Linked DNA regions of Homo sapiens. The protein of the gene in region 1 purifies or fractionates together with the protein of each later gene. This does not show direct contact. Each region holds a gene or a part of one and is shown in the gene's direction. Other genes may lie near its edges. The genes, in order: ZSCAN32, TES and PDCD11.

Evidence for each region.
Region 2: the proteins of ZSCAN32 (region 1) and TES purify together in Homo sapiens (affinity purification with mass spectrometry; 3 studies listed by BioGRID and IntAct, with this or other methods). This does not show direct contact.
Region 3: the proteins of ZSCAN32 (region 1) and PDCD11 purify together in Homo sapiens (affinity purification with mass spectrometry; one large-scale study listed by BioGRID and IntAct). This does not show direct contact.

What each region holds. Positions count from the first base shown.
Region 1 is NC_000016.10:3,387,397-3,391,050, reverse strand, and holds part of ZSCAN32 (zinc finger and SCAN domain-containing protein 32), read left to right. Parts: intron 1-533; coding exon 534-628; intron 629-867; exon of another isoform or gene 868-917; coding exon 918-1,041; intron 1,042-3,654.
Region 2 is NC_000007.14:116,216,924-116,220,577, forward strand, and holds part of TES (testin), read left to right. Parts: intron 1-3,654. UniProt on the Homo sapiens protein: Scaffold protein that may play a role in cell adhesion, cell spreading and in the reorganization of the actin cytoskeleton. Plays a role in the regulation of cell proliferation. May act as a tumor suppressor. Inhibits tumor cell growth.
Region 3 is NC_000010.11:103,441,553-103,444,290, forward strand, and holds part of PDCD11 (protein RRP5 homolog), read left to right. Parts: intron 1-273; coding exon 274-423; intron 424-657; coding exon of another isoform or gene 658-660; coding exon 661-908; intron 909-1,612; coding exon 1,613-1,781; intron 1,782-2,362; coding exon 2,363-2,516; intron 2,517-2,738. UniProt on the Homo sapiens protein: Essential for the generation of mature 18S rRNA, specifically necessary for cleavages at sites A0, 1 and 2 of the 47S precursor. Directly interacts with U3 snoRNA. Involved in the biogenesis of rRNA.

The sequences.
Region 1 (3,654 bases):
CGATGTCACAGTCATATTTGTACAATTCTTGAAGTTGGAGACTTGAGAAAAAATGTATTATCTTGGTGTGAAAAATATGAAGGGTTTCTGTTACTGTGGTATTTTAAAGAGTACTCTGGTTATCTTTGGGTGGCAGGGCTATGGAGAGATTTTTGTTTGCCCACTACGATTCTCTTTTTTTCCCTGACATGTATATTTTTCTTTAAAATGAAAAAAAAATTAAAGCTCTTATGCCAAGAGGAATCTCATGAAAGGAACTTCTCAACTCACAGAGGCCGTGAGCGCTGGCAGTGGTTCTCAAACTTGAGTTTGCCTCAGACTCATTCGGAGGTGGGAGAGTGATAAAACAGAGTCCTAGGCCCCACCTCCAGAATTTCCGATTCAGAAGATCTGAGGTGGGGCCCCAGAATTTGTATTTCTGATGGGTTGCCAGGGGCTGCTGATGCGGCTGGCCCAGGAGCCCACTTTGAGAGCTTCTGCTCTGTGCTGTTGTGTGGAAGCCGCCCTCTAATAGCGGCTGTTTTTTCCCCCAGCCTGGCTTGCTCCTCAGGCTCCCAGGAACCTGCCTCAAAACACAGGTCTCCACGACCAGGAGACAGGTGCTGTGGTCTGGACAGCTGGGTCCCAGGTGAGCTGTGGTTGATGCCTTCTGTCTCTTGAGTACCCACTCTCACCCCAAAACCCTCCTCCTTTCCAGAGACATGAGAAAGATTCTGTGTGGTCCATGGGGCTTCTCGGGTTATTTTGATTCTGTCCACTCTGACATCATCACATGGCTCAGAACCTGTCCCACTGGGAGCTGACCTCCCCTGCCTTTGCCTTGCCCCTGATCTGACAACTGTGATCCTGTCTCTGCCCCCACCCCAGGCTAGAGTGGTGCTATTTTATCGGTAGCAGCAGCTCCAGTGTTGTTACAGGGACCAGCCATGCGTGACAACAGAGCTGTATCCCTCTGTCAGCAAGAATGGATGTGCCCAGGCCCTGCACAAAGGGCCCTCTACAGGGGTGCCACCCAGAGGAAGGACAGTCACGTCTCGCTGGGTAAGGATCCATCTTCCCTCCAGGTCAAGGTGGATGTGTTCAGTTGTTCAGAGAGGCTGAAAGGACTTGAGAGGGAGGGAGACAGAGGGAGTGGGGAGACTGTTGGGTGGAGGGAAAGGAGGAAGTAAATGGGGAACCAGAGCAGGCCAGAGAGACACAGGCAGAGATCAAAAGAAAGGGGCAGCATGTGTGACCGGCAGTCAAGAACATGGGAGGTGAAGGGTGAGGCGGTGGAGAAGCAAAATGTTAGTGAGACAGAGTCAGAACAAGTAGTCCAGAGCCGGAGCCAGACAGGTGGCCACCAGGAGCACAGATGTGTTCATGCTGAATGTGCGCTCATGCACACAGGTAGCAGTAGTCGCTCCCGAGTTTCCCCAGTGGCAGAGGAGATTAACAAATAAAACCACCCAACCAGGACAGTCTACTATGCCCAGGCCTTCCGGGAGGAACCAGGCCCTTTCCCAGCATCTCAGGACACTTGGGGAAGGTTCTGCCAAGCAGACCGCTCTCTTGCCTTTCTCAAATCAGTTCTGTCCCATCTGGGCCAAATGCCTCCTCCTCAGAGCAGCCTCCCTGACCATGCAGATTCAGAGACAGACACTGCAGCTCACTGGGCCTAGATTTCTCCTCTGCTGCTTCACATGCAGGGTACTCCTGGCTAAGCCCAGGGTGGGAGGGACTACACAAGGCTGTGAACACAGGCCCTGTGACAGTGCCCCGCCTCACTCTACAATGTTGCCCTCCCCAGTGGTGTGTGGTTTTTCCCTGCTCTGCCCCTGCCATCCCTCCCCTCCTTTGCCAGGAACTCCCAGTTTCCTGGCTTCATCATGTGCCATTTCTTGCTGCTGCTTCAGGCTTCTGCACCTCATCTCTGTCCAGTTGCAGGAGAGTATAGTGTCTTTTTGAGCTCTGTATTGAGATTTGTATTACTAAGTATATATGGATAATACAATAAGGTGAGATATAAATATTTTTGTACTTGTGATTTTTAACTTATTAGGTGAAATTCACATGACATAAAATTAACCACTGTAAAGTGAACAATTCTTTGGCCTCTAGCACTTTCAGAGTGTTGTATAATTACCACCACGTCCAGTTCCAGAACCTTTCCATCTCTCCAAAGTAAGGTCCCACAACCATCCAGCAGTTTCTCCCCGTCCTTCCCCTGCAAGCCCTTTGCAGACACCAGTCTTCATTCTGTCTCTGTGGATTGAGCTATTCTGAATATTTCATGTAATGGTACCTGTAATTTTAACTGCTACAACATTAGGCTTATTGAATGAGGGCTTGTATTCCCCACACACTTTTGGTTTCTTGTCAACCATTGAGGATCCTTTAAAATTAGAGGTAAGAGTTGAGACAGAATGTGAGAGGACAAGTCATTCTTTCCACAAATATTAATTTAGTGCCTACAGTATCTCAGACCTAGTTCTAGGTCGTTAGGGATACAACAGTGAACAAACAGATAAAGATTCCTGCCCTGTGGGAAGAGACAGACCATAGCATAATCAGTAAGCGGCAGAAGATGTTAGAGGGCGATAAGCGCAATGGGAGAGAAGCAGCAGCAGAGCAGCGTGATGGGAGTGCTAGGGCAGAGGTTGGTTTGCAGTTTTCAGTTTGGGTCCTCAGGGTCGCCCTCACTGAGAAAATGACATTTGAAAAGACTTGCTGAAGGAGGAGGGATGAGCTATGCAGCCATATCCTACATGGAGGAAGAGTGTAAGACAGACGCAATGACTTGGGCTGGAGCGAGGTGGGCATGCCAGTTCACTGGCACAGAGTACACCCATGAGTAATGAGAAAACGAGCTCAGAAAGCCAGATCAAATGAGTGCTGCTAGCTGAGACTGAGAGGGAGCAATTAGAAACTTTTATAACAATTTGACACTGCTGCACTATTCGGTTGCATTTTTATTGTATTTTACAAAAGAAATAAGCACAAGACTCCTGTCCTTCATAGATAATTTGAGAAGTACTAATATGGGATCATGAGGCCCTACATGAAGGACTTTTTTCTTCTGAGTGAAATGGGGGAGCCTTGTGCGGTTCTGGGCAGAGGAGTAATAGTTTTAAAAGGACCACTTTGAGTATGTCACTTTATTTGGCACTTAACTCTACGTAAACATTTATTTGTGTCTCTTTTTGCTGGAGAGACTTCTATAGGACTGTGACCTCCTTGAAGGCAGGGTTCATGTAATATTTATATTTCTCAGAAACTGGCATTGTAGGCACTCAGTGTTAGTTAAATTGAATAACAAAGGAGGGGACTCCCTCTGGCTGTTGGGTTGAAAGTAGACCGTAGAAGGTCCAGAGTGGAAGCAAGAAGACCAGATAGGCTATGGCAGTGATCCAGGCATGAGGTGATGGTGGCTCAGTGTGGAGAAGAGGGGGTGACAAGAAGAGGCTGGTGCGCTTCAGAGCATCATGACCAGATGTTGGAATGCACTTGCTGGGACAGCTCTAGTCAAATCGGTCCTCATGAACTGGCCCAGATGGGCAGCAGGTGTGTGTGGTGAGGGTTATTTAGTAGCCAGCCATCCTGAACTGCTCTTCTCAGATGTTTACTACTTATTCTTACCTTGGTGTGTTAACTGCTGTCATTTAGTTTCCTGTA
Region 2 (3,654 bases), on another chromosome or scaffold:
TAAGGCTGTTAAAATAATTTTAAAAGATTAAAAAAAAACTATATGAGTGCTTTTTTACGTACCATGCACTGTTCTAGACTCTGGGGTTATAGTTGTGAACAAGAATGACACTGAACTTAAGCTTGTATCATAGAATTATGCTATTGCAAGTGTTGATAGAGCAATGTAAATATTGAAAGTAAGCACAACTGGAATTATACCCGTCAGTGAACTCTTGATAGGTTAGCAGTACGCTATGTTTCTAACACAGACAGTGAGCAATTTTGATGGTGATCCCTGGGCTTGATTCTTGGTTTTGCAAACTTTGTAATTAGGGATTCTTATTTCATTTGTCTTAAGTAATAGCAAATGTAAAAGATGGGAAAATGAGAAAGCAGCTTTTATGTATTAGAATGTGAAAAAGATTATGAATGCATAAAGCTATACAAATAGACTTACACCTATAATATACACAAACTATAAGTCTTCTCCCTGCCTACAAATGCCTTACAAAAGAGTCATTCTTGGATTTCCTGTTTGCAGTCATAGCTAATTTTTGTTTGGTAACTACTGCCATGGTAACCAAAATTATGATTTTAAAAGAATTGTTTATTAAATCATTAATATACAGGAAATTATTTTACTTTTTACAAGGTGGTGGTATCCAGAGAAATTATATTATTAATTATGAAATCAACTTTTTCTAGGAGAGGAAGATAAGGAAACAAAAGACTAATCAAAAACATTGCAAAACTGCAGATTTTCAGGATTTTAAAGAAAAATAATTTGGTAATTGATAACTTCACTACTGTTCTTTGAGTAAATATCCATGTTTAAAATTTGCCTCAAGCACTATTAGAGGATTAAATTTAGAGGTTATGCTTTTCAACTGCCCAACTACAATCTTTGACTCTCCTACAAAAGAGCTGCCATTTAGCATGGTTTTGTCAATTTTCAGTTCTAAGTGCCCTGTCTACCTAACATTCTAGTTAGATAATGGGGAATTAGAGCGATAAGGATATGCATGACTATAATTTTCTAAGTATCACTGTATTTATTTTGGTCAAATTCAAAAAAGTAAAAAAGCATAGTTTAGAATTGCCAATTTCTCTGTTCCTTAGTCTGTTAGAATGGTGGGGAGTCGGCTCAGATTTGAGCATGGCTTAAAGTGGGAGAGCGTTATTAGAAGCCAGCCTAGTGGGGATTGCTGAGATCTCATCTGCTGAATGACAGCAAAGTTACTACTCTGTAAATATACTTAATCTGAAATGCTGAATTATCCTCAAACCATGAGTGATTCAGCTTGTGTTTATCATTGTGACATTCTGGCCACTGTGAAAAGCTGTAAACAGGAGTTTCAGGGTGTTCATTGCATAGCTTATCTGAGCAGCGAGCCCAGCAGAAAAGATGGCATTCAGCCCAGCAGAAATGCCTTGATAAGGAGTCCATTAATGCATCTCTAGCCACAATGAACTTTTCCCTTGCTTTGTTTGATGATAAAGTGATATCATGTTTCATTGAAAAATGACCATGTAGATGTTAGGTGGATTTTTGTTTTTATATGACCACAACGTGACAGTCTTAACAGAATGAGTCACAAAGTAAGGATCAAGGATCTGATTTTTCCTTTATGAGATACTGGCCTACAATAAAAATAACTGGGGGTTAAAAAAATTACCCTTTGTTTTTCGTAGAGAATATTAAAAGTGCAGTTTAGATTTAAAACTACAGACTCTAAACTCCATATCTATCAGTATCACCTCTTGAGCAAAATACCGATGTCACCTTTGATAGATTTTTTTTTAAAAAAGGAAGGAAGATGAGTGAGCAAAACAGATGTGTAAGTTAACTACAGTGCTGGATAGAATGACATAAGTGCTATAATACAATTTCTTATCTGGGATGAGGAACCTTTTTATAAACAAAAATTAATCATTGGTTGATATTTTTAAAAACACAATAAAAATTTATTACTTAAAAGACAAATACAGGGCCAATTAAAAAAATTATTAAATGCAAGAGACACAAAATTACTTTAAGTATATAGTAGTTCCTAATTGCCTACTGTCAGTTTCTCTGCCTATCTCATCACAGACTAGTGACTTACACTTTGTGAACTGCCACTTTGAGTAGCACAGCAATAATAGAAATACAAACAACTGTTATGAAGTCTTAGAAGCAGAAGTAACTAACTTTAATTGTGTGGGTTGCGATTATTTTATCAAGGAAACACCTCCTATAGAATAAAGAAGCTTTCATTAGGCAAAGAAAGCATTCCATAAAGAGGAAATAGCATGAACCAAAGGTACCTGGCTGTGAAAAGTCAGTAAAACCACCCTTGACATTTTCAGTTTTGTCTCTTCTAAAATAAAGCTAAAGTAGATGAGCTGCAGTAATTTGTAATTTTTCCACAGTACAGGTTTGAATTAAAGAGGTATGTCACTGAGCTAGTATAAGACCCTAGCCCACAGCTGAAGAGTTTCTGATCTCCCTTAACTGTGATGATTATTTAATACATTGTGTCATCTATTGAGAGAGAGGAGGAAATTTCACAGTAGAGTCTAGCTCATTTAGGCTGGTCTGGACTCTGAGCTGTGGACTGGGACCACAATGTTGCCAGGTTTTCATCCTTCTTAGATCAGTGAAGCCAACAGTAAAGGTCATGCCCAACTGCAGGAGCACCTTTTAAGCCTCTTCTTATGCCAAAGCAGTCACATGTCCAGTTCTGAAGTCAAGGAGAGAAGTCCAGTCTAGCAACTATGAGGCTAGGGCAGGGATATGATGTTGAATACTATTACGTGGGAATGAAGGATTGGGACCATTACTTCAGTCTACCACGTGTGCTATAGAGGGACAGTTGAATGTAGGGGCTTGAGGATACTTTTCTGAAGATCTTTCATGTATCAAGAGTATTCTGAGATGATATTCTGTATGGTATCAGACTACACGTTTCAAAGCAGAGTAGTTTTTGGTCATTCTGAAAAACTGTAGAGGAAAGTTAACTTTGCAGTATCCCTTACTTGATATTTAGGGTTTCCTTTTTTTAATCTGGTCACTCTTCTGTTAGCTTTGAAACATAGGCCTCTCCAAATTCATTCCAGCCGGGTCATGTGACTTCCGTGTTAAACGAAGACATGTAAAACTCATTTCTTTGGGAAATGGCAAGTTGCCTAAGGTTTTGAAGGGGAATTACAAAATATTACCTTTTATATACTGCAACAAATGGAAAATATATTCTGTGAACATTCCAATAATATGTGTTAGACTCTATCTTTGGTAATGGAATAGAAGGTTATCCCAAGATAATTGGCAGAATTTAAAGGTAAAAAGAGGCAAGACAGATTTCAGTGGCCTAACTCCACAGCTCTTTTAAGATGTCCCAGGTAAACCAGTAGTGATGTTATTCATTGTTACTTTCTCATGGACCAGATAAAATTAAGCCAGAGGGTAGGATCATCCTGTGGACCACTGTTGCCCACTTTTCTCTAACAGTTAGGGAATTTAAAGGAAGCAGCGCAGACTTTGACTTTTCCAGACATAGATTTGGATCCCACCTTTGATATTTACTCAGTAATTTGGCAACAGTTGCTCCTTGGTTTCAGAGATCTAATCTGCAAAACATGGATAGTACTTCTTTATTGGATTATTGTGAAATTAAATAAAGTAGTACATGTA
Region 3 (2,738 bases), on another chromosome or scaffold:
CTTCTACTGTTATTTTATATACTGGTATGCATATGCATGTGTGTGTGTGAAAATTTTGTTATCTAAATAAATGTATTTACAAAGAAAACTTTTATGTCACTGCTATAAAGTTTCCCCAGTGGGCTGGGGCCTGGCATGGCCTAGGAGGAGAGGAGAGGAGAGGAGGGGTCTCTGGGCTTGGTAGGAGTCCATGCTCCTCCAGGTGGGCTGGCACGGGGGAACAGGGAGCAGCCTGAGCCAGGTGCTTTCTTTAGCGCCTCTGTGTTCCTCCAGGAGAAGCAAACCAAGCCAGCAGAAGCGCCCCGGCTGCAGCTGTCTTCAGGCTTCGCTTGGAATGTGGGACTAGACTCTCTGACCCCGGCCTTGCCACCTCTAGCAGAGAGCTCAGACAGCGAGGAGGATGAGAAGCCACACCAAGCCACGGTGCTGTATTTTGCAGGGCATGTCCTTTTTGCAGGGACCCCTTGGTGTCAGTCTCTTGTGCTCTGTTCCTAGACTGGGTGTCTTCCTGGGTGAGTGGGGGAGGGGGCAGCGGCCAGTCCCAGGCCAGGGGGTATATATAGAGCCCTGGGCTGCCCAGCCAACTCGTGACTTCCACCACAGACCTCCCCTAGGCCTTGAGGAGCAGATGACTCACGGTGTTTCTGCTTTCCATAGCAGATAAAGAAAAGCAAGAAAGAAAGGGAGTTGGAGAAGCAGAAGGCAGAGAAGGAACTGTCCCGCATTGAGGAGGCGCTGATGGATCCTGGGCGGCAGCCAGAGTCCGCGGATGATTTTGACCGACTGGTGCTGAGCTCCCCCAACAGCTCCATTCTGTGGCTGCAGTACATGGCTTTCCACCTGCAGGCCACGGAGATCGAGAAGGCCCGTGCCGTGGCTGAGAGGGCCCTTAAGACCATCTCCTTCAGGTCTCAGCTTTGCCCCAGGGAGCACAGTGTCTTCGCACGTTCTGGGCTGGGAAGTTTCTCAACCTGTGGGGTAGCTCCTCCTAGGCAGGCCGGCAGCATTTTGGGTGGCTGCCACCAGGGGCCCATGGGTCCTCAGGCTTTCTGCCATAGCTGCGGCCATCTGTGAAATAGATCTACTCATTTATATTTTATAGTCTTCTTCCCTGAAACTGCTAAGGGTAACCTTCACAAGAGTCCATACACTTATATGAGGGAACCAGTTTGAGCAGAAACACAGTAAGAAAAGAACTCACTACATACCTGGGCGAAATCCCTGTGGTGGTTTTCCAAACAGAGGGAGTTTTTGAGGCCTAATGAAGAGGGAAGGCAGTCCTTTGCTTCATCCTCTTAGCTTGAAGAGAGAATCAGACCCAGGACTCTGCGTCCAGCCCAAACCTCAGGCCCGTTTGGGATCTGGTGGGCATCCTTTCTAGGAATGGAGGCAGAATCCAGGAGAGCCTCAGACTCAGCCATTGGGGTTGGGGCAGGGGTTTCTAATGCTGCAGGAGCTGTGGGGACACAGCCTCTTAGGGTCTACATTTGGGGTGGGATCTGAGGACACAGATAGAGGCTGGGAGGGGGAGGTGGTTCCTGAGTCTGTCTGGATGGGGCGGGAGGCTCACTGGTTTCATGTGGCGCTCATGTGCTGACTGCTCTCCCTCCAGAGAGGAGCAGGAGAAGCTGAACGTGTGGGTGGCTCTGCTGAACCTGGAGAACATGTACGGCTCTCAGGAGTCCCTGACCAAGGTCTTTGAGCGAGCCGTGCAGTACAACGAGCCTCTCAAAGTCTTTCTCCACCTGGCTGACATCTACGCCAAGTCAGAGAAATTCCAGGTAGGAGGTTGGGCCACAGACGAACTCCTGGGAGTTCCAGGGCCACAATCTCAGAGAAGAGCCCCTGGGGTGCTGGGTCCAGTCCTGCTGTGAGCTTGCCACCCAACATCGGGGCCCCAACTTCCCTATCTTCCAAGTAAAAGAAGTCATTTCCCTCACCTCTTCTTCAGGCCTGTGGGGTCAAGGTGAGGGAAGGAGTGGCTTTGGAAGTGAAGGGGCAGTGGACCCCTGGTGTGTCTGCCTTGGGCTGCTGGCAGGGCATCACAGACAGAAGGGGACGTCCCGGCCCAGCATCCGCTCTGGCGTCTCTCCTACTCCCCCTTGTCATTCTCATGTTCTAGGCTAGGACCGCCCTCCCATGGGTGCGGATCAGCAGGGAATCCCCTCCGTCGTGTTGTGCCTGTTCACGGTGCCCTTCTGTGAGCCTCCCTCCCGCTCCTCTCAGGTCTCTAGCATTAGGCCCTGAGAGTGATTTGGTGTCTGGGAGCCCAGGTCTAGCTTCTTGTGAGTGTTGCTGCTTGTCTGTCTTGTCCCCTCTGTAGTATCACACTCTCCTCAGCGTGCCTCGTCTTTTCCCACAGGAAGCTGGTGAACTCTACAACCGGATGCTGAAGCGTTTCCGGCAGGAGAAAGCTGTGTGGATCAAATACGGCGCCTTCCTTCTGCGGAGGAGCCAGGCTGCAGCCAGTCACCGCGTGCTGCAGCGAGCCCTGGAGTGCCTGCCTAGCAAGGAGCGTGAGTGCTCATTCCCAGCTCCTGAGCCCATGAGCACTCCAGGATCGGGGAGTAGGAACTGGCTGTGGCATTGCTTCTTCTAAGTCAGGAGAGCCTTGTGAGGGCTTTCCTCTTGCTGCCTGTTGATTCTCTGCCCCTCAGCATAACAGTGCATGTTAAATTTCAAATGTCAGGCTCCAAAAGATGGAGGAACAAAACGCAGTTAGTACTAGTTCTGTTGCC